7 linked regions of the Homo sapiens genome follow. The protein of the gene in region 1 interacts with the protein of each later gene in a biochemical or structural test. Each region holds a gene or a part of one and is shown in the gene's direction. Other genes may lie near its edges.

Evidence for each region.
Region 2: the proteins of ZSCAN30 (region 1) and LDB3 interact in a test that uses a peptide from one of them, tested with the Homo sapiens proteins (one large-scale study listed by IntAct).
Region 3: the proteins of ZSCAN30 (region 1) and FRMPD1 interact in a test that uses a peptide from one of them, tested with the Homo sapiens proteins (one large-scale study listed by IntAct).
Region 4: the proteins of ZSCAN30 (region 1) and SNTG1 interact in a test that uses a peptide from one of them, tested with the Homo sapiens proteins (one large-scale study listed by IntAct).
Region 5: the proteins of ZSCAN30 (region 1) and FRMPD4 interact in a test that uses a peptide from one of them, tested with the Homo sapiens proteins (one large-scale study listed by IntAct).
Region 6: the proteins of ZSCAN30 (region 1) and PDZD2 interact in a test that uses a peptide from one of them, tested with the Homo sapiens proteins (one large-scale study listed by IntAct).
Region 7: the proteins of ZSCAN30 (region 1) and FRMPD3 interact in a test that uses a peptide from one of them, tested with the Homo sapiens proteins (one large-scale study listed by IntAct).

What each region holds. Positions count from the first base shown.
Region 1 is NC_000018.10:35,286,978-35,291,900, reverse strand, and holds the start of ZSCAN30 (zinc finger and SCAN domain-containing protein 30), read left to right. Parts: upstream 1-1,671; 5' UTR 1,672-1,774; coding exon of another isoform or gene 1,775-1,817; intron 1,818-4,923. UniProt on the Homo sapiens protein: May be involved in transcriptional regulation.
Region 2 is NC_000010.11:86,677,561-86,682,010, forward strand, and holds part of LDB3 (LIM domain-binding protein 3), read left to right. Parts: intron 1-1,806; coding exon 1,807-1,958; intron 1,959-2,521; coding exon 2,522-2,597; intron 2,598-3,875; coding exon 3,876-4,243; intron 4,244-4,450. UniProt on the Homo sapiens protein: May function as an adapter in striated muscle to couple protein kinase C-mediated signaling via its LIM domains to the cytoskeleton.
Region 3 is NC_000009.12:37,705,743-37,710,192, forward strand, and holds part of FRMPD1 (FERM and PDZ domain-containing protein 1), read left to right. Parts: intron 1-1,673; coding exon 1,674-1,831; intron 1,832-2,656; coding exon 2,657-2,759; intron 2,760-4,450. UniProt on the Homo sapiens protein: Stabilizes membrane-bound GPSM1, and thereby promotes its interaction with GNAI1.
Region 4 is NC_000008.11:50,792,355-50,796,804, forward strand, and holds the end of SNTG1 (gamma-1-syntrophin), read left to right. Parts: intron 1-316; coding exon 317-475; 3' UTR 476-4,338; downstream 4,339-4,450. UniProt on the Homo sapiens protein: Adapter protein that binds to and probably organizes the subcellular localization of a variety of proteins. May link various receptors to the actin cytoskeleton and the dystrophin glycoprotein complex.
Region 5 is NC_000023.11:12,144,455-12,148,904, forward strand, and holds part of FRMPD4 (FERM and PDZ domain-containing protein 4), read left to right. Parts: intron 1-4,450. UniProt on the Homo sapiens protein: Positive regulator of dendritic spine morphogenesis and density. Required for the maintenance of excitatory synaptic transmission. Binds phosphatidylinositol 4,5-bisphosphate.
Region 6 is NC_000005.10:32,103,567-32,108,016, forward strand, and holds part of PDZD2 (PDZ domain-containing protein 2), read left to right. Parts: exon of another isoform or gene 1-1,149; intron 1,150-2,557; exon of another isoform or gene 2,558-2,614; intron 2,615-2,721; exon of another isoform or gene 2,722-4,402; coding exon 4,403-4,450.
Region 7 is NC_000023.11:107,455,862-107,460,311, forward strand, and holds part of FRMPD3 (FERM and PDZ domain-containing protein 3), read left to right. Parts: intron 1-4,450.

The sequences.
Region 1 (4,923 bases):
TTGAGACAACGTGATTGAAACCATCTTAGACCCTGGCCCCAGTAGAGTCAGCCTTGAGATGACTGCAAAATGACCCCAGAAAAGACCAAGAGAAAAAAAAATGCCCAGGTGAACCCAGCTCAAGTTGATGACCTACAGAATCATAAGAAATAATGTGGTTTAAGAAGTCTGATGTTTTAGGTCACTAAATTTTGGGGTTCTTTATTCTGGAGTAATACATAGATACAAATCTCAAAATAACTTCAAGGTATGAAGTACTATGCACTTGAAAAGTGAGGAAACAGAATCGTAAAATATATGAGTAACTTACTGGAGCCAGTTAAGTGACAAAACTACTGTTTGAATCTAGGTTGTCAGACTCCAGAACTTTTAACTATGCCCCTACAGTAGATAAGAAAAATGACCAAAACTGACAGATTAGCAATGAGGTCATTATACAGGGAAAAATGAATGACTTTGGGGTCTTAAAAAAGTGGAGAGAGCTGCATGAGAATTTGATCGCCAGATTTTGAAATAAAGTCATGTGACTATGCTTGGTACACTAAAGAGGTAATACTGCCTAACAGAGTTAAGGGGGATCATTTGAAGACACTAGCATAGAGTGACACCCCCTCATCCTCCCCACCCCGCCAAAGCCACTAAGAAAGATATAATACCCTGCCTCTCACCTGACAGAAGGTGGTGTTCCTGAGATTCATAATTGAACTGGATCTCCATGGGCTGCAACTGGACACCTCAGTGTGCAAGTGGAGAATTACCATTTCCTCTGTAAGCTTTTCTTGTCCACATAAAGGTCTGGGACCTGGAGGCAACTGGGCACCACTGGGCTTGGAAGGGAATCATTGTGCTGACTACAGATGTAATCTCTGAGACTAGACCACCAGAAAAATCCTCAAGATATAAAAGAAGGAGAAAACAAAAAATCTCATTTGACTTCCAGTTGCTTTTCTCTCAGAATGTATTAGGCTTCCTCCCCATCATCCAAGAGCCAGGGATTAACCCACTTAAGACACACATTCCCCATTCCAAGTCTAGAGATGTTCAAACAAAATTAGGGGTTAATGCTACCAAAAAAAGGTATAACTGGAAAGATAACGCAGAGAGGGGAATTTTACAGTGAATTCTAGTGGTTAACACTATGTTATTCGCTGCCCTTCCTATCCAAAAATGACACTACTGATCATTTTTCTTCCTTTTGCTTTTACAACATTCACAAATTCAGGTGGCTCTTTCCCAGTACGGTAGGCTGATTCGTATGGATGCACCACGGTTGGTGACTCCCCCCACCCCACAGAGTTTCTGGCGTTCATTCGGTTGAACCCAAGGCCAGCAAGGGCTGACTGGGAACAAACCGAACACTAGGCCGTGAACCAATCGTCTCTCCGTGCCCGGGAGCGACCCCGGGGGCCTTCACTCTCCAAGGACTCGAGAAACCATGCACAGTTTCCTGCTCGTTAGGCAAGATCACCCGGAACTCCTCTGCTATCCGCGAGCCGACATCACCCTTACCTCGACTTGGTCACCGGACCGCTGTGAAGCCTCACACCCGGCGAACCTGCCATCGCCCTGTCCGCTCTAGGAATCTGGGAGGAGTGCTCAGCTCTATGGCGCTTCACCGCGCAGGCGCAGGGCGGGGGTGGGGCACCGGGTGACGGAGGGCTGCCGAGAATTAACCCCCGAACCGCCGCGAGCTGTCCCTAGCAGTGCCTTAGCCAGGGACCTGCTTGGCCAGCGACAGATCCTTTGCTGCTCTGTCTGCCGGTTCTTGAGGTGAATGTCGGAATCCATTATCTTTCGGGAAAGCTCTCTGGGGCAGGGTAGGTTTTCTTACTACATACAAGTTCTTAATTAGTTATCGTTTTTTAAATAACCACCCCTCCCCCTATCGCTTATCTGATTCGTAGGTATGCTTTAATTCTAACTTTCTTCCTGTCCTCTCTGGTTTTTCACACCCCCAGAAGAGTAGCGCGCATCAGAATCACCTGGAGGCCTTGTTAAAATACTGACTTCTGCCCCACAACTCCGGAGTTGCTGATTTAGTAGTGGGGGAGGGGGCGGTGGCAGCCCAGGTTCTCAGGTGATCCTGAAGCTGTTGGTCCTGGGACCACATTTTGAGAACCACTGCCCAAGAAATAAGTGATGCTCAGTAATTAATCCCTGAATTAACGGAAAGTTGGATTTTTATCTACTTTGCAATCTAGAAAGGGTACGAGGTCTATTTAAGGTTTGCTTGCTAGAACAATTCTCACTGATCAGGGTGAGAAGGACCCGAAATGGAGGGTGCGGGGTAATCAGGGTAGGAAAGGATATTGCTGTGTTCATGGAAATATCTTGGGAAATGAGGAGTTGGGACCTCATTTCTGTTGAGACCAATGAGACGTGTGACTTGGTTTAAGCTGTCCGGTGGGGAAAGGAAGAGGTTTGAGAAAATGGTGGGTGGCTAAGTGGTAGTTGAGGTGGAGGAAGAGGGCTTCCTGTCCCAGCCCAAGTCCCTGTTGGGATATATGAAATTTAGGGATGTATGACTAAGCCCTTAATATAACCGTAAGAGGAAAGAGATGTGGGAACTTGAGTCCAACCCTCCCAAGTAGGGAGTGCAGATAGTTTTAAAAAAACAGCTTTCTTTTTGGCCAGGCGCAGCTTAGGCCTGTAATCCTAAAACTTTGGGAGGTTGAGGCAGGTGGATCACCTGAGATCAGGAGTTGGAGACCAGCCTGGCCAACAAGGTGAAACCCTGTCTCTACTACAAATACAAAAATTAGCTGGGCATGGTGGTGTGCGCCTTTAATCCCAGCTACTTGGGAGGCCGAGTCAGGAGAATCGCGTGAACCCATGAACCCAGGAGGCGGAGGTTGCAGTGAGCCGAGATTGCGCCACTGCACTCCAGCCTGGGTGACAAAGCGAGACTTTGTCTCAAAACAAAACAAAACAAAACAAAACAAAACAGCTTTATTGAGGTATAACTGACATAAACAGCAAATATTTAAAGGATATAATTTGATAAGGCTTGTTAAATGAATACAGCTGTGGAACTATCACTGCAATCAAAATAATATGTTTATTACATCTAAACCCCAAAAGTTTCCTCCTGCCCGTTGGTAAGCCTCTCTCCCAATGCCCCCTCCACTGGTCAGCTGTTACTAGAGATTAGTTTGCATTTTCTAGATATTTATTTAAATGGAATCATACAGAATGTCCTTGTTTTTGTCAGAGTTGTTTCACTAAGCTTTTATTTTGAGATTTATCTTTATTGCTGTGTGTATCAATAGTTAATTTTTGTTGCTGAATAATATTCCATTGTATGTATATACCACAGTTTGTTTATCCAATCACCAGTTCATGGGCATTTGGGTTATTCCAGGTTTTTACTGTTACAAGTAAAGCTGAGAACATTCATGTACACACGTCTTTATATGGACATATGCTTTTTTCCCCCTCTCTCATGGTAGATGTACATTTAATGTTTAAAAAAACCCACACTACTTTTCAGAGTGGCTGTATCATTTTGCATTCCTAACATGAGTACATGAGAGTTCCGGTTCCTCCACATCCTTACCAACTCACTGTGTATCTCACTGTGGTTTCAATTTGCATTTCCATACTGACTAATAATATTTAGCATTTTGTAATGTGCTTATATGCCATCTGTATATATTCTTTGGTGAAGTATCTGTACAAATCTTTCGTCCATTCTGGACACTAGTCTTTTGTCAAATATATGCTTTGTGGCCAGGTGCCATGGCCCAAGCGTGTAATTCCTGCACTTTTTGTAGGCCAAGGTGGGTGGATTGCTTGAGTCTAGGAGCTGGAGACCAGCCTGGGCAACGCGGTGACACCCTTTCTCCACCCAGAATACAAAAAATTGTCGGATGTGGTGGTGTGTGCCTGTGGTCCCAGCTACTTGGGAGGCTGAGGTGGGAGGATTGCTTGAGCCTGGAAGGTGGAGCTTGCAGTGGGTGGTGATCATGCCACGGTACTCCAGCCTGGGCAACAGAGCAGGACCCTGTTGCAAAAAAAAAAAAAAAGAAGAGGAAGAAGATATATGCTTTGCAAATATATTGTGCCTTCAGTTTTCTTTCTGTTAATATTTTTTGAATAGCATCAGTTTTAAGTTTTGATGAAGCACAGTTTATCAATTGGCTCTTTTATGGATCATGCTTTTTGTATGATATTTGAGAAATCTTTGCCTAAAATAAGTTCACCAAGATTTCCTCCAGGATTTTTAGGTTTTACATTTTGGTCTCTGATCCATCTGGAATTAATTTGTTTCTACCCATACAACTCTGAGATTTAGGGTAAAGTTAATTTTTTTTTTTTTTTTTTTTTGGTATGTGGATATTCAGTTGTTCTGTACCATTTCTTTCTCCTCTGAGTTTCCTTTAAGCTTTGTAAAATCAGTTATCCATATATGTGTGGGTCTATTTCTGGCCTCTCTATTTTTTCATTGATCTACTTGTCTCTTTAGTCCAACACCACACTTAATTACTCTAGCTTTATAATAAGGCTTGAAATCAGGTAGTGTGAGACCTCTAATTTTGTTGTTTTGGTTATTCTAAGCCCATTGCATTTCCATATCAATTTCTGAATCAGTTTGTCAACTTCTACAAAGAAGCTATCTGAGATTTTGATTGGGATTGGATTGAATCTGTAGATCAATATGGGGAGAATTGACATGTTAAAGCAATATTGAGTCATCTGATCCATGAACACAATATTTTTCTCAATTTATTTAGGTCTTCCTTAATATCTCTCACCAATATTTTATAGTTCTTTTTAATATTTTACAGATCTTTCATAACTTTTGACAGATCTATTCCTAAGTATTTAATATATTTTGATGCTATTGTATTTTTCCTTTAATTTCAGATTGTTTGTTGGTAATATAATAGAGAAATACAATTGATTTTTGTATATTAATCTTGT
Region 2 (4,450 bases), on another chromosome or scaffold:
CCCAGGAGGTGTGGCCTTCCTGAGATTCCATGGGGAATTCCCGGGATGGAGTTGCAGTGGCATTCTGTGTGGTTACACTGAAGATGGGGCCTCCAGACTGTAACATTCTGTGGTATTATCGGGGCTCAGGGTTTGGGAACTGGCCCCCGCACCTGCACCCTGCCTTCTGGAGGTATGACATCAACTACAGAACCCTAAGCCCTGCCCCATTTCCCAGCTGAGTTTGCTCATCCAGGCAGGGTTGTCGGCTACCTCACTCTCTCCACATCTGCCAGGTAGCACAAAGCACCTGGCACTAAGATGCTTTTGAGTGGGTGCATTTATCCTGCCCTTCAGCCTGGCAGTGTCTCTGGGATGCTGCTGTGTCTTAGCTGCTGCATCTCCCTTTTCTCCTGGAGTCTGAAAAGTGCTCCATAGCTTTGCAGGGTGCAGGGGTTATAAGAGGCTAATCAAGGTTACAAATAGCCTGCAGTTTTTTGTTTGTTTGTTTGTTTTTAGACAGAGTCTCGCTCTCACCCAGGCTGGAGTGCAGTGGCATAATCTTAGCTCACTACAACCTCCACCTCCTGGGTTCAATCAAGAGTTCAAGCGATTCTCCTGCTTCAGCCTCCCGAGTAGCTGAGACTACAGGCACATGCCACCATGTCCAGCTAATTTTTTTTGTAATTTTGGTACAGACGGGGTTTCACCATGTTGGCCAGGCTGACCTCAGGTGATCTGCCTGCCTCAGCCTCCCAAAGTGCTGGGATTACAGGCATGAGCCACCACACCTGGCCACCCTTTTTTTTTTTTTTTTTAAGACCGAGTCTCCCTCTGTCACCCAGGCTGGAGTGCAGTGGTGCAATCTCAGCTCACGGCAACCTCTGCCTCCTGGGTTCAAGCAATTCTCCTGCCTCAGCCTCCCAAGTAGCTGGGACTACAGGCGCCCACCACCAGGCATGGCTAATTTTTGTATTTTTAGTAGAGACAGGGTTTCACCATATTGGCCAGGCTGATCTCGAACTCCTGACCTTGTGATCCACCCACCTTGGCCTCCCAAAGTGCTGGGATTACAGGCGTGAGCCACCACGCCCAGCAGATGCCTGCAAATTTTTAAGAGACAGAGTCTCCCTCTGTCACCCACGCTGGAGTTCAGTGGTGAGCGATCATAGTTTATTGTAACCTCAAACTCCTAGGCTGGAGTGACCCTCTCACCTGCCTCCTGAGTAGCTAGAACTACAGCCATGCACCACCACACCCTGCCAAATATTTTTATTTTTGTAGAAACAGGGTCTGGGCTCCTTTGCCTGGGCTGGCCTCAAACTCCTGGCCTCAAGCAATTCTCCTACCTCAGCCTCCCAAAGTGCTGGGATTATAGGCATGAGCCACCATGTCCAACAGCCTCCAAACCTTAATGGCTCAGAACAACAAAAGTTTCTCATTCATGCAACGTCCAATACAGTGCTCCTTAATCATCTCTCCTCCTCTCCATGCCCTGCATTCAGTCAGTCAACAAGCAGAGAGTGTGCAGGATCACAAGGATGGTTGCTAGAGGCAGACCTGGAAGGAGCATACATTGCTTCCACCCTCATTCAGTTGGCCAGAGCTAGTCCCAAGGCTGCAGTCAGACACAAAGCTCTAAGCAATGTGGTAGTCATGTGCCGGAAAGAGGAACTAGGCTTGGTTAGCAGCTGGTACTGGCCGTAGCGAATGAAAAACACAATGACGGCTTCTGTTGAATACTCCCGGGTGACTCTTCCCCAAGGACTGGCCTTTCCTCAGGACCACCTTCCTTATGCTCACCCCCCACCTCCACTATCCAATCAGATCACACCAGGCAGCAAGGCAGCCCAGTCCCAGCTCAGCCAGGGTGACCTCGTGGTGGCCATTGACGGCGTCAACACAGACACCATGACCCACCTGGAAGCCCAGAACAAGATCAAGTCTGCCAGCTACAACTTGAGCCTCACCCTGCAGAAGTAGGTGGGAGCTCTCCAGAGCAGGGGGCGGAGGTTTGGGTGTGGGCATGGGGCAGGGGCCAAAAGAGGGATTGTCCCATAGCAATTGAGTGGGCCCCGCCCTGGGCTACAAAACTGTGCAGGAAGATAAGGACAGCCCTGGGCCAGAGGAATGAACAGGCCCAAGTCGCTGTCAAGCACCTAGAGGCAGACATTACTGCCTCACTTTACAGTTAAGGCAGAGATGGTGGTCCTGGTGCTGCCCGTACGTGGGCCATTGGTCCTGGAAGGCAGGTCTTACCTACTTCCACTTTGCCCAGGCAGCCCCCAGTGACGTAGCAGGGGCCCATGGATTCTGACCAAAATGCCCAGGGGCCATGATTTCTCCATCCTCGTCGGGCCCAGGGCCTTCTTGGGGAGATCCAGCCCATGGGGTGGACAGTGGATCTGGGGCCCTCTGACTCAGCTATCTCTGAGAGCTGACTCTGGCTCTCTCTTGCTCTCTCCTCACCAGCCCTGCCCAGGCAGGAGCTTCTGGCCCCAGGGGCAACTTCCTCACCTGGTCTCATTTCTGGTTTCTACAGATCAAAGCGTCCCATTCCCATCTCCACGACAGCACCTCCAGTCCAGACCCCTCTGCCGGTGATCCCTCACCAGAAGGTAGGTGCTGACTGTGGCGGCGGGGTCCACTCAGCCCTGGTTCCTGGAGTGCTGGCCCTGGCCAGCCTGCCTGGTCTTTGGCTGGCCCAACTGGGATGAGGCCGTGGGATCAGCCCTGCCCCATCCCTGCCCCTGCTGCAGCTGACCCTGGGGAAGTGAGGCAGCCCCTTGGGAGAGACTTTCAAGCCCCTGTTGAACACTGGATGTGGGAATGAATGCCTGCCTGGGTGCAAGCCACCTCCGCTATGCCTCGTGGCTGGGCTGATAGGAAGCCAGCTTGGGCAGCAGTGTTCCCAGGAGAGGGGTCACCCTCCTGGCCAGGCAGGGGACGAGCGTCCAGGCTCTGACCTTCATTTGCCAAGGGGGCCACCGCTGGGTGACTGTGGCTGAGGCCCAGCTTGACGAGGACCTCCAGGTGTGGAGGGGCCTGCTGGCCTCACCCAGATCTCTCCCTCTGGTTTCCACTTCCCCACCTGCCCCTCCCAAGTGCATTCCCCTGTAGCCCTTAGGACGTGCTGGCAATGGCAGGCACAGGGGAGAAGGGAGGCCAAGCCCTGGCTCCAGACCTCACCACTGCCTAGGCCCTTCCCAAGGCCCCGCCAAGCAGCTCAACCCCCGAGGGCTCCCTGCTCAACTTCTCCCCCTATGTGAACTGATAGTGACCCCACCTGTCCAATGGGGCAGATTGGGCAGGGCAGTGGGGAGAGGGGAGAAAAAGAGGCTGACAGGGGTGGGGTAGGTCACAGACTGGGGAAGTGGGTGGAGGGCTGCTTGGGAGATGCTTGCAGAGGTAGACTGAGGGGCCCAAATGTGAGCTACCCAATTCCTCAGCTTCCCTCCTCACCTCCCCACCACCTGCCCACAACCAGCCCAGGAACTTCATCTCACTGGCAGTGTGGGGTCAGTGGAGCAGGAGGCTGGGCTGTGCCCACTGGGCACCCACTCTCAGGGGCAGGGGGAACAGACACAGAACGGGCCATCCCCTGACCCCTACACCCACTTCCTCGGGCCCTGGGGGCAGGAAGCTTGGCTTGGCTTCCATGCAGGGCTTGGCACTCTGCCCAGCTGGATGCCAGCCTCACGCCAGGCCAGGAGCCATGTGCCTGCCTGCTCCTCCACCAGTGTCCTCCCCTCCAAGTGCTGCGCCCAGGCGCTCTGGGCTTCAGGCTGCGGGGCTCGCGCTAACACATCTGTTTCAGGTCCACGCAGGAGCGCTGGGACGCGTGTGGCCTCTAACCGCTCTCTTCTCTCTCCCCTGCATGGCCTGCCCTGTGCCAGGACCCCGCTCTGGACACGAACGGCAGCCTGGTGGCACCCAGCCCCAGCCCTGAGGCGAGGGCCAGCCCAGGCACCCCAGGCACCCCGGAGCTCAGGCCCACCTTTAGCCCTGCCTTCTCCCGGCCCTCCGCCTTCTCCTCACTCGCCGAGGCCTCTGACCCTGGCCCTCCGCGGGCCAGCCTGAGGGCCAAGACCAGCCCAGAGGGGGCCCGGGACCTACTCGGCCCAAAAGCCCTGCCGGGCTCGAGCCAGCCGAGGCAATATAACAACCCCATTGGCCTGTACTCGGCAGAGACCCTGAGGGAGATGGCTCAGATGTACCAGATGAGCCTCCGAGGGAAGGCCTCGGGTGTCGGACTCCCAGGAGGGTAGGTAACGGACATACAGCTCTCCACAGGTGGCCTGGGCCACCTGGGTCCTCGGTGCTCGGCAGAGACCTGGTCAGGTGGTCAGAGCGAGGCACTGGCCCCAATCCAGCCAGCCCCGAGCCCATGAGGTCAGCAGTGATCCTGCGGCATTTGCCATGAGCCGGGCATGCTAGCGATTTATACAACCAACCACGCTGGGGTGACATG
Region 3 (4,450 bases), on another chromosome or scaffold:
TGAGAGGCAGATCACTTGAGCTCAGAAGATTGAGACCAGCCTGGACAACATGGAGAAACCCCATCCCTACTAAAAATACAAAAAATTAACCGGGTGTGGTAGCACGAGCCTGTAGTCCCAGCTACTCAAGAGGCTGAGGCATGAGAACCGCTTGAACCAGTGAGCTGAGATCATGCCACTGCACTCTAGCCTGAGTGACAGAGTAAAACCCTCCCTCAAAATAAATAAATAAATAAATAAATAAATAAATAAATAAATAAAAGATTGAAAAAAAATCAGGAAGAGCTATGGGCTTTATTTAGTGTGAATTTTCAGTTTTCTGTTTCTTCCCTCTCATTAGGTCTCTCTGCTGCTCCAGCTCAGTATTACCTGCATGCTGGCCTAGAAGAAAGACTCCCTCTGCTTCTAGGTTGTGTGGGCTGGGTCATCTATTCATACAGATCCTAAATTTGCTCTAAGTCAGGGCCTGGGGGGGATCCTTGGTGGATAGTGTACACGAGACTTTGGACTTGTGCTTGTCACTTACATTTTGGCTCTGTGAGACAGTTTTTCATATTTCCGGATCCTTGTTGAAACTGGAGATCATTATAAATGAGAGGGAGATGATTTTCAGATAAGTGAGGGCCTATTGCATTAGGCAGGGTTCCTGAAAGTGTTTGGTAAATGGATGAGAATAAATGATAGACCTTAACCGCAGAGTCCCAAGACAGCTATTACTCCTTCACATTTCTGTTGTTCATAATGACAATAAACACCTCATCCCATCACTATTTGACCTTCCTCAGAAAGAACCACTGACTGTTAGAGGGAAAAATCATTTGCCACAGGTGAATGACAAATAACTTGTGACTCGCTTTGTGGTTTCTCTCTTTGAGAGATAGAAAATATTACTTTCCTGCTTTTAAGGAACATACATGTTTTAAAAGTTGATATAGAGGGAGTCCTTGCTATCTGAGATTTTATATTGGAAACCTTGCAGTTACAAAGCTTAAAGGGAAGCAAAATTCATCATAAAGAAACAAAGAAAAACATCACCAAAGACAAAATCTTGCTATAAAATTATCCGTCATCAAACATCTGAACCTGACAACTCCTTGTTTCTGCTCACCATCCATGTTTTTCCTCTCCTGTACCTCTGACTCCAGCAGTATGTCCTGCCTGGGATGCCCATCTGCCTGTTCTTCTGTCAGTCCGTCCATCCATCCATCCATCCATCCATCCATCCATCCATCCATTCATTCATTGATTCACTCAGCAGCAGTTATTGAATATCTTCTGTGTGCCAGGATCTGGGCTGTATAGGTATACCCTAGACATGTCTCAGAGTGCAGCTCAAATGCCACCTCTTCCAAGTACCAGATGCGTCCCTGATTCCCTATTCCCTGCCCTACAAAGGTGAAACTGCTCTCCCCCTTCTCTGTGTGTCCATAGCACTTCCTGGGCGCTTTCTAGATATTTAGCATTAGCTCATTAAGAATGCCTGGCAATACGACTTCTCTTTTAGAGGACAGTCCTAAGTTCTGCTAGTGGAGTTGGTGTCTTATTTGTCTCAAGAGGAGAATTGGTGTCTGCTCAGTTCTGCATCTTTCTCCATGATGCTTAGGGCTGACCCAGTTCGTGACCAACAACTAGAGTCTTCTCTTTCTCTTTTTTACATACTCCTTCTCTTCCAGGGCTAAAGTTGCTGCAGCTGATGGGCCCGCCAGGAACCCAACTCAGACCCTCATCCCTGTGCGACACACAGTAAAGATAGACAAAGACACCCTCCTCCAGGACTATGGATTTCACATTTCTGAGAGCCTTCCCCTTACAGTGGTGGCTGTCACAGCAGGTAGGGGATGACTGGGAAATGAGAAAGGAGTTTGGTTTCTTAAGGGGAAATAGCCCCAAATCTCCCCGATCTCTCTATCCTATAACAAAATGCAGAAAATCCTACCTGGGAAGTTAGAAAAGGCACACCTAATTCTGTCTTGGGCTTTGCACCTTACTTTGATGCTGGGAGGGAGGAAGCCTCAAGTGCACTTGCCGCTCCAAACCCCAGGCTCCCACTGGCCTTGGCTAGGGCGTTGCCCACCCTTGGCTCCCTGGCTGGTCTCAGGGGCAGTGAAAGTATTTGGCTAAGCTAGCCTTCCTCTTTGAACCCCACACGCTCCTAGCTGGGGATACTTTCTGGTCAGACAGTAATAGAAACCATTGATTTGTTTTCATTTGAACCTTGTGAAATACAGGCTGTACCAGGGTGGAGAGGAGCAGGTGGGGAAAGTCCAGTGCTTGTTTTCATAATTGAGGTGTGTTAATCTGGGATTCGTTAAAATGTATTGATTTCTATTTACTACACATACACACCAGAGTTTTTTAGAGATGAATGGAGTAGATTTACTGGCCAACTCTATTGATTTAGAAGGTTTCTGCTAGTTTTCTTTCTCAGGACAGTCTTCTAACATCCCTGGAAGTTGGTGATAGATGATAGGTACATTATCCATGGTTTATAAACAGGAAAATTAAGATCCACATGAGCCCAAGCCTGACTGAAGGCGGGGGAGTGAGCCAGTGCCCCTGGGAACTGGATCAGGGTGCCATTTAACTGTGCCGCTATTACACATAGAGTCTGGGTCCTCCCGGCATGAGCACCAATTACTTATTTTCTGTCCAACAGGAGGCTCTGCTCACGGCAAGCTTTTCCCTGGTGATCAGATCCTCCAAATGAACAATGAGCCTGCTGAAGACCTTTCCTGGGAACGAGCAGTCGATATTCTCAGGTACTAAATGGTCTTCCATCATCTACAGAATTGCACAGATTATCAAAGAACAAAGATGGGCAACAGGAATGGCATAACTGATCCCCTGATTTTAATAAGGCTAAGTCTCCTTTAAAGCAGCAAAAACAGCCTCGTTTTAGAGTTCCATCTATTAAAACGGCTTCTTGTTAGTGGCTGTTACAGTCCACTCTCTCTCACTTGCCTACAAAAGAGCTTGGGAGGCACAGAGTGCTGTATTTGTCAAAGCCCTGCTATGCCCAAGACACCGTGCTAAGCATGCAGGGAATGTAATGATCATAAATAACCCACAGGCCCTACCCTCTAAGGATTTATAGGCACGTTGTAACATATGCCAAAGATTGAACTAAATTGATGCCAAATCTGTTCTTCTTTATCCCTCTTGATATATCTTCTTAAATATAATTGCAGGTGCATCTTGGTTGGCATATATGTAGTTTCATTGATGTAGCACCTCCAAACCTTCTGTCTGGTGTCATTGTGACTTATGAAAATGCCTCGCTTTTTACCTAGACAATGATTTCCTGAGACCAGGGCTCAGTGGGTGCTCAGTTAAATGAGTGAATATGGTTAGCGCTGGGAATTGGCAACCCAGACTTTAAGACGGAGGAGTGCCATTGATAGGAGTGAAGAGGACAAGCAGACATTTTAAGGGCACATGAAGCTTTGGCTTTTAAATTTTTCACTCAACATTGTTCTAATGACTAGTATAAAGACAGACGAGAATCAGAGGTAGATGAAAGCTAACTTGAAGAGATATATATATATATATAAAATTCAGTTTGTGATTTTTCATGAATGGCTGATCTGGCTTTGGGGTGGTATTAATTGTTTTTTTTTCCCTTTTTTTTTGAGATGGGGACTTGCTGTGTTGCCTAGGCTGGTCTCAAACTCTTGGGCTCAAGTGGTCTTCCCATCCCAGCTACTCGGGTGGCTGAGGCAGGAGAATCGCTTGAACCCGGGAGGCAGAGGTTGCAATGGGCCACGATTGTACCACTGCACTCCAGCCTGGGTGACAGAACAAGACTCCATCTCAAAAAAAGAGAGAAAGAAAAAGAAAAGAAAAGCCAAGGAAATACACTGTAAATGCTGGAGAGTCCTCCAACTTGGGCAGAAGTTGTAGGCTGACAAAACAGAGAAGGGCCCAGAAATATTTCAGTTGTGTCTTTAATGCTGGGTAAAATTTGGTCCAAAAGATGGAGGTGAAGGGTGATTCAGGCAAAGAGGTAAACAGAAGCAACTGGGTGGGAAGTAGGGGCTGCTGAGCAGTTCAGTTTGCCTGCAGAAAAGTTCTAGGAAGTGAAGTCCAGATGATAGAAGGTCTTGAATGCCAGCACAGCATGTTTCAGTGTGATTCTCCCCCTGGAAGGGCGAGCAGTTGAAGGCTTCTGAGCAGGGATGCATGACTTGAGGTGTGCTGTGCATCTGTACCCTCTGCTGTCTTTTGCATGTGAGAATCCCAGGACGCCTTACTTTTTTTAAGCTTAGTTCCCAGTGTCTAAAACCAGCATGTATTATTCAGTGTCACGTGTAAAAGGTAAAACACAAAGCAAAACAAAAAGATACAACAACAATGCCAAGAAAACATCTCAAATTCCTCCAAATAGCTATGAGGCCAGTATGTCCTTTTAGAGCACTTGCATTTGGGTTTATTGTGATTTATCTCAGAAAAG
Region 4 (4,450 bases), on another chromosome or scaffold:
AGTTTATCTTTAATTGTACATTATCAAGAGTAAAATTTTGGCAAAATATATTTATCAATCAGTGCTAAAAGAACATTCATAGATGGTAAGAGTGATTAGTCCTCCTACCTCTTATCCACCATGTATTGAAATAAATTTTCACTACTTACGATGTTTACACGTTGACCAAAAATGTCTACATTTGAAATTAGTTTCCACATGTTACATATCATAGATTCTAGATAAGTGTATTGAAATTGAAAAAAAATCTAGCTATTATAAATTTTTAAAGACATTAATTTTTATGTTATCTGACCTGTTTCTCTTTCCCTTTCAGGAGTTGGAATTTTCTAATTTATTTGCTGTTCTTCACTGCATTCATTCCTTCTTTGCTGCCAAGGTAGCTTGTTTGGACCCTCTATTTTTAGGCAATCAAGCTACTGCTTCTACTGCTGCCAGCTCTGCTACCACGAGCAAAGCAAAGTATACAACTTGACATACTGAACTCTTCATTGACACACCCCATGACTGTATAAGCAGGACACATTTACTCATCATTTTAGACCCTAGAGAAACCATAACATCACCAAGTCGACAGTGGAGGCAAATCAAAATTTCGGCAGAAAAAGAAGGTCATGTGGAACCTCAAAAACACTTCTATTCTGGATGACATCTGTGAAATATACTACATGAACAGAACAGCTTGTTCTCACTCAGTTGCTTTGTACCAGTAAGTGTATTGCTTTCACCAAAAGTGGAGACAAAAGAATAAATTATTTGAAGAAGTATGTAAATAACATAAAAATAGTAAGCTACCTATGAATAAAAATACTTATTAAATGATTACTTCTGTATTTTAGATTATTTTGTATGACTAGTACATGTTGGGCAGAGTCATAGGAAAACAAATGCCCTATCTTGTATTATGAGGGACATAAAAGAGTTAAAAACCATAAATCAGCAAGGAGCATGCAAAAAAATCTCATCAAAGAAGGATGCACTTTAATTTGCTGATGTAAATTTGCCCTTGTGTTCTCATCCCATGATTTGACACTGGCATTCCAATTGTTTTTATCTTATTGTAAATATTCCGAAGAACTTCCAAAGGATAATTACATTGACCCATGATAGATACAATGTGAAATGGACTATTCTCCCTTGGATCACTGTTATTGAAATGTCTTATTAGCTGCCAAAGTCAATCAAATATGCCAACAGTGTATTAATTTAATTATGAGTGATGGAAAATTTCATGAACCTCTCATTTCTTCCTTGGTTTGAAAGAGATTTGTATTTTACCTAATAAGATTTATTATCAAATTAAAGTTTCATAAATTTTCAGTGAACCCAAAACCTTTTGTAGAGAAAATAATATAAACAAATATGGTGTGAGAAACAATTCTTTGTAATCCGAAGTCTACTAGTTAATCATGAACTAAAATGTCCCCCGAAAACAGTCCCAAAGCTATTATAGATGTTAATTAAATGACATTTTTTCATTTTAGTACTATTTTATGAGAAACAAAGGTGATATTTAAAGATAAAAGTTAAAATTCTTTAACCTCCCTTGTCATGGAAAGTGATTAAGTAATGCCAACTATGCAGGTTGTTTTAGGTATTTTGTCCTAAGAATGTAAATGTGAAAGGCTGGGAAATTTGAAAGCCTTAGAGGTGTGCAATTTACTCAGATTCCAGGTATTATTCAACTAGTTGTATAACATGGAACACAGTCTCTGTCCTTCAGTACAGCTTTTTTGAGATATTTTAAAAAGTCAGCTGTGTATGTAAAAAAAAAAAAAAATTTTTATTGATACACATGCTCCCAGGTAAACCAAGTATTATGTGTGTCCTTGTGGAGATAACCAAGTATCTAATAAATTGATTCAATTTTTTTTTTCAAATATGTTTTTAAAAATCACTCAAGAAGGAAACAAAGTGATTTCTATAAAGGACAGATTTACTAATTTAAAAAATTAATATCAAGTTGTTTTTATACTCATGATTCATTAATTTATTTTGCATCAGATTAATTTGTAAATACATCAAATTGAAAAGAAAAAGTGAGGGTTTATAATTGTCCCTGGGAAAATGTTAAACTGAATCTAACATACCTTACCCAAAGAACTGTGGCAAATTACAATAAACAGTTTCAGTGTAATGTATTTTGACCGTAAAACTAAGTACACATTTGTAATTAGGATAGAACTTTAGAATTATTGCACACTATATTGATCAAATACAACAGTCATTGTAAAATTGAAACCCACCAAAAGCAGCCTTCAGTAGTAGGCCACTTCTGAACTTATGGAGAAAAAGCAGTGGGATACATCGAACTTAGAATTTTCAGCTGTGGCAAGTGGTTCATTATGGAACTTCTGCTTCCAACCAGAGCTGAATCTCAGTGTGCCCCATATTGGGGTTACATGAATGTGTCCACAATCTGGAAGGCAATATGACATGGGCTAATTATCCATAAGCAAAAGAAAAACGTTTCAACAGTTTACCTACCTGTAATAGAATGATTTAAAAATTGTGAAATTTTGTAAACGTTCCATTTTAGAATTTAAAAAACCTATTAACCATTAGCTATCTTTTTAGTGTTATTATGAAAATTTAGCCTATGCTCATGTGTGTTACGAAGGAAAAGGTGCACAATGAGATATGTATAAATATATATCTCCTCAGAGAATACACACACACCTACATATGTATTTATATGCATACATGGGTGTATATATATATAAATATAATGAAATGCTGACCATTAATTATATTAGAAGAATGTTTTGTGTACATACATTTAATATACTTTAAATTACGTTGTAAAATGTAGCTTGATTAAAAACTTATGACAATACCATTATGAATATTTTTGATACTATTGATAAAAAACATAAGCCGTGATTTTTATTTAACATGATTAGTACAACAGCCAAAAAGTAACAAAATACTATTCTCGTTTTCATCAGTTTAACAATTAGTATTTAATGTTTTCTTTACAATGTGGTGATTAGTCATTGGCATTTGTTATAACTTGGACTACTTGAATGAGAAAGCTTTGAAATGAACAAAAACACTTAAAAATTTCTATCTCTCATATAATTTAGGTTTACATGTAAGAGATTTATTCATAAAATCCTAGTTTGTACATTAAGCACATTTTAACAGCAAAATGCTAATGTGTTAACCCCTCCAGTGCCTTGGTATGTGTGAGCGTGTATGTGTGTTTGGGTGTGTGTCTGTGTATGTGTGTGAGTGTGTAAGTGTTATCATTAAAGGGTTCATTACAGTGTACATAACACAAGCTTAATGGAGAATATTGTAGGTATTTAGGTCAGAGAATGAAGTTCAAAGTCATTTGAAAACTGCTAACTACTATAATAATGTCTTTTGCCTGATAAAGAATAACAATTCATCTAAGTCGAAGTATATTACAGAAAGGGCATTTATAATTTGTTAAAATGCAACAAGTATTTATTTAAAAAATAGTTTAATAGATAGTGTAAGTGTAATGTATATCTGAACACTTATCCAGCTTTTTTAAAATGGGAGGATAATCAGGTAATTATTTCTTGCCCATATTTCAGGCATGTACCAACTTATAATTTTGAAATCTTCGCTCATAAAGCTGTCATTCAGCAAGAAAAAGAAAGCAATTACTTGAAAATAAATGTCAAGTCCATATTAGCCATGCAAAGAGAGAAATTTTCCTTTGGGTGCATTAGTTTATAGATCAACATTTCCCTCATTTACAGTGCTGAAGCTTGATCATGAACTTTGTCTATGTTGAATGCTGGATTTAAGAAAAGCTTGATTTATTACTGAGAAAAATTAATAATCCTAACGATAATTTAGAATTACTGCTAGAAATCAGCAGTGTGGAGAAGCTTTAAAAGCACAAGGATGATCTTGTGCTTAACTTTTTAAGGTAAGTGTAGATGTTCGGATACTAATAACAAAGATTTTGCTACTATTAATATTGCTGTGCTCATAATTTCTCCTTATGAAATTGCTTTATTCATACTTCTAAAATTGTTCTTTATTGTTTATTCTTACTACCGAATACTTTAAAATCATAATGCCACTTATTTGCACATTTGAATTTGCTTTTGAAAATAAAATATTATAAATGTTATATATTTTATACATGTTAAAATGCAGTGAAAAGACAAGAAATATAAAATGTAAATATATTTATTTCATTTTTAATTGTTTTGGTGGATGTTTGTAAAATGTAAATTAATATCTGTGACAAAAATTTGTCACTTCATTCTTTCAGTTCATTAATGTACTACTAATGAAACCATACTTTTTTAAATGAAGCATACTGGAAAATAAAAACAAATACTTTTTACTAGATTTGGGTTTTCATTTCTTTGGGTTTGATTTGTAAGGATTTTACATATGTTTAAAACAAGATCCTGAGAGATTTAACTTCAATGAAAAGGTTTAAGATATGAACTGTGTATAT
Region 5 (4,450 bases), on another chromosome or scaffold:
CTGGCAAAGAGATGAGAAGGGTTTTCTGCCAGAACTGTTCTTTCAGAAATATATTTTCAAGTATGGTTTACAGAATTTGGCATAAGATAAATAGTCTATACTAAATAATTAGTGAGTGAAGTCATATACAATTCATTCTAACATTTGTTGCAAACAAATTGTCATATTTGTTTAGCTGAACAATTACCATGTCAGTACTTCTTTATTGAATATAACGGAATACAATGTACATGTTAAAAGTAAATAGCCTGCTCTTGGACTTGGTCTCAGAGAATAAACTTTTATTTCTGTTTTTACATTTGAAGTATATATATATTATATATATAAAATATAATATATATATTTGGTGATTGATGGTTAAAAAGTCATCAACTTGTATTTCCAAGGAGTCTCTGTTTTACTGCTTTAAGCTCAATAAGCAAAGTTATGATGATATTGAAATGGGTTTTTATAGATGTCAGTAAGTTTTTATTTTAGAAAGTCTTTTTTGAAAGCTAGGAAAACACAATCATTTCTATGAAAGAAATGTTTCCAAAGTTTGAAAATGAAAAGTAATTTCCCTGCAATTACAATTTACTATAGGGTTTTAATTTTTATTTTGGTTATTTTTTATAGGCTTCACAAGTTTTATGAGATTTGCTTAATTGAAAATAAGAACATGATTACCTGACAAAGATGAGGTTCAAAGAAAGCAGTAGGCAAAAGTTCATAAAATTAATGGTAAAATTTTCCTAATGAATGTAGGAATGAGTGTATTTTTCTATTGAACTGGCACAGTTATTTATCTGGTCAGAGACTGGTGTGGGGGAGAACACGCGGCCATCTGGCTGATTCAAGGCTGTTGTATTGATTCAACATTGGATAACATACTGACCATGGTGATTTTACAATGGTTCCTGTAACTGGAGTCCTGGATATTTGTCTCTTTTGAAGTTCACGATCCAAGTCACCGGTCTTTACCCTAGTACAGGAGCAGTTAGCAGTCTCAGCTATACAGTGGTGGAGTCTGGAATTAGTTTTGGTGTAAATCCCAAACATGCCCAACTGAATTGTGGCTCAGGGCGATGTCCTGCTTCATGGCCTAGGGCCAGGGCTGGCAAACTTAACCCATCTGATGTGTTTACTTATTTTAGAAAGCTTTATGACCATTTTTATAAATAAAGTTTTATTTAAACACAGCCATGCCCTTTTGTTTGTATACTGTGGCTGCTCTTGGGAGAGTTGGATAGCTGTGACAGAAACCACATGGCTTGCAAAGCCTAAAATATTTACTCTCTGCCCTTTACATGGGTATTTTACTGTTCTTCTTTGATCTCTCTGCCCAGTACTCAAATTTCCCTTTGGGGCAGTCTGGGTGTCAGCCTTCTTTACTAGCAGGGGGAAGGATGGATATGGTTGGAGATTCACCCTGAACACAGTCACCCTTGCCAGCCCCGCTCTGGGGGACTTAAACTGTCAGCACTTACAATACCACTTGTAGGTTAACTTAGAAGCTTTGTAAAGTGCAAATTGGATCCTCCCTGTCCCCTCCGTCTACATACTTTTGAGGGGAAAATCCATATTCTTTATCCTTACCCTTTTGGGTTTGGCCTGATTCACTTGGTTCCTTTGAGAACTGTATTTCTCGGGCTGGGCGCGGTGGCTCACGCCTGTAATCCCAACACTTTGGGAGGCCGAGGTGGGCGGATCACAAGGTCAGGAGATCGAGACCATCCTGGCTAACACGGTCAAACCCCGTCTCTACTAAAAATACAAAAAAATTAGCCGGGCGTGGTGGCGGGCGCTTGTAGTCTCAGCTACTCGGGAGGCTGAGGCAGGAGAATAGCTTGAATCTGGGAGGCGAAGCTTGCAGTGAGCTGAGATTGCGCCACTGTGCTTCCAACCTGGGCAACAGAACGAGACTCTGTCTCAAAAAAAAAAAGAAAAGAAAAAGAGAACCATATTTCTCTGAACTTGTTATTCCTCCTTTCCAGCCTTAACTTCCTACTCAACACCAAACACACACGTGTATACACACACATACAGAGACACACACACACACACATCTACCCCTAACCATGTTGAATTTTTTAGAAGTCCTAAAAAGTGCCACACCCTGAGCCTTTGCATAAACTCTTCATTTTGTCTGGAACAATCTTTATCTTGCCTCCTTTACACCTGAAAAATTCCTATCTGTCTTTTATATTTCAGCTTTTAATCTAAGGTTGTTCCATGTCACCTTCTCCAACCTCCCAATCCTGGGTTAAATAGCTCGACTGACATCTTTTATTAGCGAAGATAATTTCACTGCTTTAACAGATCAATCCCTCAATTTTTGTGGCCCATCTCTTGTTTGCTTGATACACAAAACAGGCATTCCTGATGGTGTGGGGGAGCTCTGATATGCTCAGCCATTCTGAGAACCTGTAAGATAGGACTATCTCATCTTCAGTATGCTATCGAAGGTTTCCTGCACATCAGTGTTCAGCTGACAGATGAGGGGAGAGAATGGTAGAAGATTGGGTGACAGGTTTTTAAGGGCTATGCCCAGAATCAAAGTATACCATTCTACCCTCATTCCATTAGGCAGAACTCTGACCCTATGTAACTGTGAGGCAAGCTGGGAAGTTTAGTGCCACTGTGTACCCTATCTGTGCTGGACATGTCATGCCCTGCTCTTTTCACAACATTTCTTCATTGTGTGGTAGATTGTAATTTTGTTCCCAATTCTTAAATCTTCCCTGAATCCAAGCCTTTTCCATGTGACATTATAGTTCTACTTCCTAGAGGTAGAGGGTACCTCTTTGCCCCATTGCTGTTGGGCTTGGCCAAGTAACTTGCTTTGGCCAGTGGAATATGGACAGAAGTCACAGGGTATCTGTTTTGGTACAAGTTTTTGGTAGGAGAATGCCTTTAAGGTATTGTACGTTTCTAAAAAAGAATGTAAAAAAGCAAAAAGCTCTTAACATTGCTATATGAAGAACTGCCTAGTTTAACCTGTTGGTCCTAGAAGCTAGATTCACATGGACCAGCACCATCAGGCAAACCTGTGAGCATGAAAACAGATGCTTATTCTTGTATGACACTGTGTTATGCAGCATTGTTGTGGCAATGGCTGACTGGTATAGATGGTATTATAATTGAGTCCAGTTTTGATCTGTGTCTCATTTATGAACTCTTCAAGGGCAAATCCCCTGGTATTAAACCTCCTTGGTTTATAGTAGATTTAAGGATACCTTGTTTCATTGCACTCTGGTTTATTGGTGCTTTATAGATACTGCACTTTCTACAAATTGAAGGTTTGTGCCAACTCCACATCAAGCAATCTGTCAGCACCATTTTTTCAACAGCATGTGCTCATTTCGTGTTTCTGTGTCATATTTTTCATTATTATTATTATATCTGTTATGGTGATGTGTGATCAGTAATCTTTGATGTTACTATTGGAATTGTTTGATGTTACTATTGCAATTGTTTTGGGCTGTCATGAACCACACATATAAGATGGCAAACTTAATTGATAAATGTTGTGTGTGTTCTGACTGCTGTACCAACTAGCCATTCCCTCATGTCTCTCCCTTTCCTCAGGCTCCCCTGTTCCTTGAGACATAACAATATTGAAATCAGGCCAATTAATAACCCTACAGTAGCCTGCAAGTGTTCAAGTTAAAGGAAGAGTTGTACATCTCTCACTTTAAATTGAAAGCCAGAAATAATTAAGTTTGGTACGGAAGGCATGTTGAAAGCTGAGATAGGCCAAAAACTAGACCTCTTGTGCCAAACAGTTCGCCAAACTGTGACTACAAAGGAAAAGCTCTTGAAGGAAATTAAAAGTGCTACTCCAGGAAACACACAAACGATAAGAAAGTGAAACAGCCTTATTACTGATATGGAGAAAGTTTGAGTGGTCTGGATAGAAGATCAAACCAGCCACAACATTCCGTTAAGCCAAAGCCTAATCCAGAGCAAGACTCTTAACTCTCTTAAATTCTGCGAAGGCTGAGAAAAGTGAGGAAGCTGCAGATAAAACGTTTGAAGCTAGCAGGGATTAGTTTGTGAGGCTTAAGGAAAGATGCTGTCTCCATAACATGAAAGTACAAGGTAAAGCGGCAAGTGCTAATGGAAAAGCTGCAGCAAATTATCCAGAAGACCTAGCTAAGATCACTGATGAAGATGACTACACTAAACCGCAGATTTTCAGTGTAGACTAACCTTCAATTGGAAGAAGATGCCATCTAGGACTTTCATAGCTAGAGAAGAAAAGTCAATGCCTGGCTTCAAAGCTTGAAAGGACAGGCTGACTCTCTTTTTTGGAGTTAATGCAGCTGGCGACTTTAAGTTAAGGCTAATGCTCATTTGCCATTCCACAACTTCTAGAGCCCTTAAGAATTATGCTAACTCTACTCTGCTTGTGCTCTAGGAATGGAACCACAAAGCCTGGATGACAGTACATCTGTTTACAGCATGGTTT
Region 6 (4,450 bases), on another chromosome or scaffold:
GACTGAGGGAAAATGTCCATCACCTGAAAACCCAGCACCCAGCTAACCTGTCATTCAATAGGGTAGCTAAAATGGAGGTATTTTAAGACACTCCTGAGGGGAGCGGGAGTGGCCGCCTTCGTGGTTGGTCACAGGACACGTAGCCTCTGCAGTCCAAAGGGACACAACCCAAAAAAGCGTGTGAGCCTGCGAACCGAAGGACCAGGGCAGACGCTGACTAAAGCAGCACATCGGCTGGGGAAGCCAGGCTTCGGGACCCCACACTAGAAGAAGCCACAGGAGAGATGACATCCTTCAGATCTGCCTCCAGCAAAGCAAGAATATGACGTCCTGGACAACTTCTCAGCCTTTGTCTCTAGCATCTGGCCACAAATCTGTGAAAACTGCTATGGAAATGGATAGAGAAGAAGAAAATTGTCAGTCCCACAGACTAGCGCTTTAGATGCTCTCGTGTGCAAGCCTGTGGTTTTGTTCTTGGGGAAAGCCATTCAAGTATTTCTGAGTATGATACGGCAGATCCCACCTTTGGAAACTAGTGAGACTAAAGATGTCATTATCTGGCCGGGCATGGTGGCTCATGCTTGTAATCCCGGCACTTTGGGAGGCTAAGGCAGGCGAATCACTTGAGGTCAGGATTCACCTTATCTCGTATTTCATATTTACAAATTTCATGAGTACAGGTTTTCTGTTCATTTTGTTTTCCTGTGTCTTTAAGCTCAAGCATTAGAAAACAATATAGCAAGACTGATTTCTTTGAGTAAGGTTATTACAGAACAAGCATTTGAATAATAAAGAATTTTTTTTTTTTTAACAGGGTCTAGCTCTGTCACCCAGGCTGGAGTGCAGTGTCACAATCTCTGCTCACTGCAATCTCTGCCTCCCAGGTTCAAGTGAATCTGGTGTCTCAGCCTCCTAAGCAGCCCAAGGTGGGTGGACCACCTGAGGTCAGGAGTTAGAGACCAGCCTGGCCAACATGGTGAAACCCCGTCTCTACTAAAAATATGTTAGCTGGGCATTGTGGTGCATGCCTGTAATCCCAGCTACTCAGGAGGCTGAGGCAGGAGAGTCACTTGAACCCAGGAGGCGGAGGTTGCAGTGAGCCAGGACCACACCACTGCACTCCAGCCTGGGGTCAGAGAAGGCTCCATCTAAAAAAAAAAAAAAAAAAAAAAAAAAAAAACATATAAAATGTTCATTATATGGCAAAATTTATAAGCAAATTCAAAAGTAAGTGATTAGAAGATATTTACAATATATTTAATAAACAAAGGGTTGATATCCAGAATAGGCAGGGTACCGTGGCTCACACCTGTAATCCCAGCACTTTGGAGACCAAGGTGGGCAGATCACTTGAGCCCAGGAGTTCAAGACCGGTCTGGGCCACATGACGAGACTCCACCTCTACAAAAAATACAGAAATTACTCGGGTGTGGCGGCACGCACCTATAGTCCCAGCTACTCAGGAGCTGAGGTGGGAGAATCATTTGAGCCCAGGAGGTCGAGGCTGTGGTGAGCCATGGTTGTGCCACAGCACTCCAGCCTGGGTGACAGAGGGAGACCTTGTCTCAAAAAAAAACAATCAATCAATCAATCAATCAATCCAGAATATATGAAGAACTATATAATTCAGTAAGAAAAATACAAGAGAGAAAGTTTGGGTAAAGAAAGCAATAGCAAATGGACAGAAGTTAAAACCTAGGTGGCCAAGAAACACAGGAAGATGCTCAAACTTAAATGTATTGGATGAAAATTAGAAATATTATAAATCATTCTTTTAATCTATCAAGTTGGCCAAAAATAAAAAATCTCATACTATGATGTGTTGGCAAGGATGTGGAGAAAGGAAAACACATTTTTTTTCTCGTGCAAGTATCTACTGGTTAATCTTTAAGGAAAATTTTAGCAGTGCTTACGAAAATGGAAGCTATGAAACAATTTAAATTTCTATCTGTAGCAGAATAAAATATATTCATCTAAAGGAAAGCTAAATAGCAGTTGAAAAAATAAATTACACCTCTCTCTATATACTAACTGGGACCGGCTCAAAAACAGTGTTGAATGAAAAAAAGCCAAATGCAGATTGTGCACTGTGTGACACCAATTCATGGTAAGCATAAGGAACCTAAGAATGTGTTCAACAAAAGCTATGCAAGACCTTTTTGGGAAAAAGCATAAAAGCTTTCTAAAGGACAATTTTAAAAAATCTATGAGTAAATGGAGAGAGAGACATATCCTGCTCAAATCTGTTAAGATTCAGTTTGGCCTCATGTAATAGGAAATCCAAAATAGCAGTGGTTTAAACGAGAGAATTTATTTCTCTCTTGTGTAAAAAGTCCAAAAGCTGGCAAACCTCTGCTTTGTACAACACTGAATGTTTCCTAAAGGAGCAGTCCCCAAGCTTTTTGGCACCAGGGACTGGTTTTGTGGAAGACAATTTTTCCATGGTGAGGGTTTGGGTGGGGGATGGTTTCAGGATGATTCAGGTGCATTACATTTATTGTATACTTTATTTCTGTTATTACATTTTAATATATAATGAAATAATTATACAACTCACCATCACGTAGAATCTGTGGGAGCCCTGAGCTTGTTTTCTTGCAACCAGGCATCCCATCTGGGGGTGATGGGAGACAATGACAGATCATCAGGCATTAGATTCTCATAAGGAACATGCAACCTAGATCCCTCGCATATGCAGTTCACAATAGGGTTCACACTCACGTGAGAATCTAATGCTGCTGCTGATCTGACAGGAGGCAGAGCTCAGGTGGTAGTGTGAGTGACGGTGAGAGGCTGTGAACAGAGGAAGCTTTGCTCACTCACCCACTGCTCACCTGCTGTGCAGCCCTCCTGCCACCAGTCTGTGGCCCAAGGGTTGAGGACCCCTGTCCTAGAAGACTTTCCTCTACTTCATCTCATTCAGTCCTTCTAACAACCTAGTAAGATAACAAGACAGATATCATCATCACCATTTTGCAGATGAGAAAACTGGAGTTTGGAGAAATCTGTAACTTGCCTGAAGTCACAGATTTGAGACCAAACCCAGTCTGATTGCTCCTTCAGTGTGCGTCAGGCTGTTCTGGTTGCCTGGAACCTCCCATGTCCTGAAGCCCAGGTGAACACTCACAAAATTCTTTTGTTTCACATAACCTGAAGGCCTTCGGTTAATATGCTAGAATAGGACATTGGGTACTAAGTTAACACAAATATAATTGGTTCTTTGGTCCTTCCAAAAATGTATCTATCTCAAGAAAAGCAAGGACTAGGGACCAAATCATTTTCCTGGGGCCCACTACAGGGCTGATATTGGTGAGGTCTCTCTTCTAATGTAACTAACTGCCTCTATCATTTACCACAGAAAATGTTTTTGTCCTTGTGTGGGCTGGATTTCTTCCAAGCTGTATTTTTATCACATAATATTTATTTCAATAATTTCAATAACGACTTTCAGTAATTTAGGATGAAATCGATACATCTGCTCAGTCTTTTGAGGTCTAATCAAAATTTCTGAGAAAATTTTTTTCACACTTGGGACTTTTTCTTTCAATGCCATTTTTTTTCCATAAGATGCCTCCATAGCTGGTGTACCTTTAGAAGTATATGTGTGAGAACGTAAATGGAGGGTTTACACTTGCATTTTTTTCAAAGCTCATACAAAGCTAGACAAAGCTATAATGTGAACATGCTAAACTCTGTAAGTAAGTAGTCCCCATGGTCACTAATGAGCACATAATCACTGATTCTCAGAACTTGCATATATCAGCCAGAATCTGTTAACAATTAGAAGCTGACAGCCTGGGCAACATGGCAAGACCCCATCTCTACCAAAAATATAAAAAAAAAAGCTGTGCATGGTGGTGTATGCCTGTGGTAGCAGCTACTCTGAAGGCTGAGGTGAGAGGATCGCTTGAGCCCAGTGAGGCGGAGGCTGCAGCGAGCCAAAACTGTACCACTGCACTCCAGCCTGGGTGACAGTGTGAGGCCGTCTCAACAACAACAAAAAAAGTTGAACCTGCTTTTCTGTGTTTACTGGCTGTTTGGAGTTCAGCTGTTGATTTCCTTACCCCAACTTTATTTTGTGTTATTCTTGTTGACTTGTAGCTCTTTAGTCTGGATGTTAACCATTTGTTGATTAAATACATAGAGAGTATCTTCCCCTTGTCAGTTTATTTTTATCTTACAGATTATGTTTGGAGGGGCGGCAGGAGGGCTAGAGTTGCACTGTTTTCTGTAGACCAGTTTACTTTTATGGATATATGCTTTTTGTGTTCTAAGAAATATTTCTCTATTCAATAATATATTATTTAGATATTTTTATCACTTAAAAGTTTTTAGTTTACTTAGGATTTTTGAATACTATGAAACTGCCAAGCTATTAATTATTCTGTGTTTATTCTCGTAGGTGGTGCGGCTGAACAAGCTGGAATAATAGAAGCTGGAGATGAAATTC
Region 7 (4,450 bases), on another chromosome or scaffold:
TACAGTGCCTAGTGCATAGAAGAGATACTTAATAAATATTTGTTGACTACTCAAATGAATGACTTCATGAATAAGTGAAGGGATGAAGTTCAGACTGGAAAAAACTTGAGCAAGTACGTAGGGTGGCTGTGTCATAGAGAAATAGGGCAGGAATGGAAGATAAGGCTAGGAAGATAGAGTGGGTATAGTGGATGACTATTATTATTATTATTATTATTTTTAGAGACAGGGTCTCACTCCGTTGCCCAGATGAGTACAGTGGCATGATCATGGCTCACTGTAGCCTCAAACTCCTGGGCTCAAGTGATCCTCCCACCTTAGCCTCTCGAGTTGCTAGCTAATTTTTAGTGTTTCATAGAGACAGGGTCTTGTTGTGTTGCCTAACCTGGTCTCCAATTCCTGGGCTCAAGCAATCCTCCCACTTCAGCCTCCCAAAGCACTGGGATGACAGGCATGAGCCACTGTGCCCAGCCTGTCTTTACTTTTTCTTATAAATATTTTCAACCTCAAAAAAATTAGAGAAAATAGTATAGTAACCCCCACATACTCATTATCCACATTAACTAGTTATCAGGACTTTGCCATGTTTGCTTCACCTATCATGCCAAACATCGATCACATCATTTTATTCCTAATATTTCTCTATGCATTTCTTAAAAACTGGACATTTTCTAACATAACTACAGAACTGCTAATACACCTAACAAAAGTAACAATAATGCCTTTGTATTATCCATTACCCTGTCCATAATCATATGCCCTCAATTGTCTCAAAACATGTTTTACAGTTGGCTTGTTTGACGGACGTTCCAAAAAAGTTCCACACGTGACATTTGGTTGTTATGTCTCTAAAGGCCCTTTCAACAGCCCTCTCTCTTTGACTTGTCACAGAAATCAGGTTGTTTGCTCTGCACAATTCCCACATTCTGGTTTGTCCTCTTATTGCCAGTTAGCTTGTTCACCTATCCCCTATATTTTCTATAAATGGAAGTTAGCTCTGGGCTTGATTAGATTCAAGCTCATTTTTCTTTTTTTCTCGCTTTGGCATAATGATTAAAACAAGATCATTCTGGAGGCAGGAAGACCAGTTAGCCGGTTGTTACCATAGCTGGTTGGGGACAGAAAGAAGATGGGTGAATGTATTTGGAGGTAGAGGAAACCTGATTTACCTACCAATTGAATGCGTGGGGTGAGGAAGAAGGAAGAGTCAAAGATGATTCTAAGGCTTTGAGCCTGCATAACCAGGAGGGTACCAATGTCATCCTATGAGAAGGATGAGTTTTTAATGAGAGCAGCAGGTATCATGGTTAGATTAAAGGAGGAACTTTCTCACTTTCTCACAGTAAGAGGCCATCTGCTCTGTTTTTTTTTTCCAGATAATACTATCTTTCCCAGAAAAAAATTTGATTCGTGGTATAGCTAAACATTTGATAATGTTTGGAAAACATTTGGAAAGGGACTCCGTATTTTTTGTTAACTGCAAATAGTTAAATTTCCAGCTCCAGGGCCTTGAGAGGGAGGATAGTATATACAATTCTGGATAGAGAGAAGGTAATGCTGATATCTCCCTTGCAGATGAGCCTACTGTCCCATATCATCATGGGTTTCTGAGTCATCAGGCTTGGGTAGGAGAGTGTAGGATGCCAGAACCTGGGATTTCTCTAGACACAGCCAATGAGCATAGCTCAAGATCCATGTCTTTCCTTGATATTGGCTGAAGTCTCTATCCCACACCCACTCTTCCACCCAATATGGAGGCTGTGTGGACCCTCAGTGGACCATGGCAACAGTGTTCTTGCCAAAGTCAAAAATTGCCTAAAAGCCCTGGGATATTCACTGGACTCTGACAAAGCCCCAAGATTATTTCGACACCTCAGTAGGAACTTGCTTAACTCGTTGAATTGGATTAGGTGAGAACTACTCTCAGCTCCATCCCATCATACCCTCCTTCATAAAGGCTTTTCTCTCTCTTCCTTCCCCTAGCTCATCTTTCTTCTTGCTTTTTCTTCTGCTCCCCCCTCCCTGCTCTTTCTCTTCCAGCGTACATTTATTCTCTCAAGTTAATCAAACACTGGCCCCTACAGCCCATTGTGCCTCAGATTGATCACTTAAGTAGCGTTATTGATTGCCCAGAAAACCTTAGGAGGTGGGAGTGTTCTGAAAGCTAGGATCTGACAGCTGATTGGCTGCCTATGTCTCACTCGGCAGCCTCAGCTCCTCTGCCGTCTGGAACATCTTTTGAGAAAGGTGAGGGAATGAACAGCGGAGATCCTTAGCGGGCTTCACTTATCTCATCCTTCCTTCATACTGGAGTTAAGGCATGGGAAGAGAAGTCTATTGACCACTCCAGGATCTAGCCCTGTACTAATGTTATGGTGAGAAGGGGAAAGCAAAGGCCCTGCTCTCTGGAAATCCGTAATTTAACAGAAAAATAATACTCATTCATATGAAGTAACTAAGAATAATACAAGATGGAAAACAATTATGTGCCACATTTTTTTGCTCTAAACAGTAAGCACTGTAGGGGTTCAAAGCACAGAGAGAATGAGAGTGTGGGCTGGAATGAGGGGAGAAGTCTTCCCAGAAGAAGTTGAACCTGCGTTATGTTTTGAGTAACATGTGAGATTGAGATTGTTGACTAGAAAAGGAACAGGCTTCTGAGGGGGAGGCACAGCATAGGGAAAAGGCTGGAGATGGAAATGGTCAGGGTGTTATCAAGAAAGGGTCAGAAAGAAGTCTGACTAGAGGAGAGGGTGTATATGCAGGCACAGTGGGGAAAAAATGATTGGCTGGGTATGGGACTCCCAGATTTGAAGAGTCTCTGATGTCAGAAGAAGTTTGGACTTGGGTAAACCTTGGGGGCTGTCGGACAATTATGCATAGTGATTCAGGATGGTTAGCTATGCAGTTGGAAGCAGAATTGATTGGAATAGGGAGAGACTTGAGACCAGCCTATAAGATACTACAGCAATCTAAGTGAGAGGTGATAAGGGTGGTGGCAGTGGGCATAGAGAGGAGGGTCAAATCCAAAAGGCTCTCAAGGCATCGGTGTGGCTGATAAACCACCAAGTAGATTTTCTTGACTTGTTTTTGTCTCACTCGCTCCTTCCTCTTAGCCTCAATACTTACACTTTCTTTGCCTCATGCCCTCAGGACCTTAAGGTGGCAGAGTTTCTGGAGCTAAGATAACATTGGGCATTATAATCAGTTATCCTTTCCAAGTAAAGTAGATGCGCACAGGGGCCTTCAGTACCATGACCTGAAAGAGTGAGCAATGAGGAATCTGGCTGCAGAATGCAGTTGAGATGATAGCCAAGCTGGGGTGCTGAGTATTACATCCCCCAACAGGGAGGCCGGAGGCAGGCGATGCCTGTGTCTGGTCTGTTTCAAGTCCCCCAAGGCTTCTGAGAGCTGGTAAGAGTGAGGAAACATCTTTCAACTTCCCTGGTAGAATCAGTTTGAAAACTCTTCTGAGCACTTGGGAATCATCTCAGTGAAGGTCACACCTGTGCCAGAGTATGGCAAGAGCTACCACAGCACTTTGATGCCAGCTGGAGCCCTGTTGCAGCTGGTATAAGGAAACTAAGTGAGGAGTCCACAGGTTGATGGGAGAGTCATGGCCAGGGCCTCTGCCTGCTAAATTGCCTCCCCCACCAACTTTCCCCTCCCCACCCAATCCACTGAATATCAGCCCTGGATAGGTGTCTGGGCCAGGTCTGCCAGCCCTGGATTGGAGGGAAATAGAGAACTGCAGATAAAGGGATATTTGTGAGATTTTAGTCTCCTTTTACTTGTTCTTCTTGTGGGAGCATATGATGCCTTGTAAAGATGAATGAGTACAGTAGTTCTGCTCAGGCTGTGGGCTCCTAACTGCCAAGGGAGCTCTGCTCTGAGGGCAGGACCACCCAATCAAACAGGCTTCTCCTTGCTTCTGATCCAAACCCACTGGGAAAACAGAGGAACAGATGGCTAGATTGGTGGATGAACACACGTGTGTGTGCGTGCGTGCACGCAAGCATACATACACACACACACACACACACACACACACACACACACACACACACACACTCTGCATAGTCTGTCAATCAGCGGCCTCCAGCACTTCCCTGCTAAAGATTTCTGTTTTGATTTCTGTAAAGTCTTCTGATTGCAGATTTGAGGCAGGGGTGGTGGTTGGTGGCTAAGAAGTAGGCAGGTGTCCAGAGTGGAAAATGCTTATGCAGGTGAAGGATTGAGAAGAGAGAATGCAAGTCACTGACTAGGGTAGTTTGTATGTTTACTACCCTTCTGATGGAAAAACCCATTTAAGGCAGAAAGAAGAGGGCATGATGGCAACAACTGGCTTAGGAGTCAACCAGGTAAGTGTCAAGATCTCTCAATTTGGAGATTCTTCTACAGTCTGTACTCACTGTTTGTCTCCTAAGTTTTGTCATTGGTTTATACATTT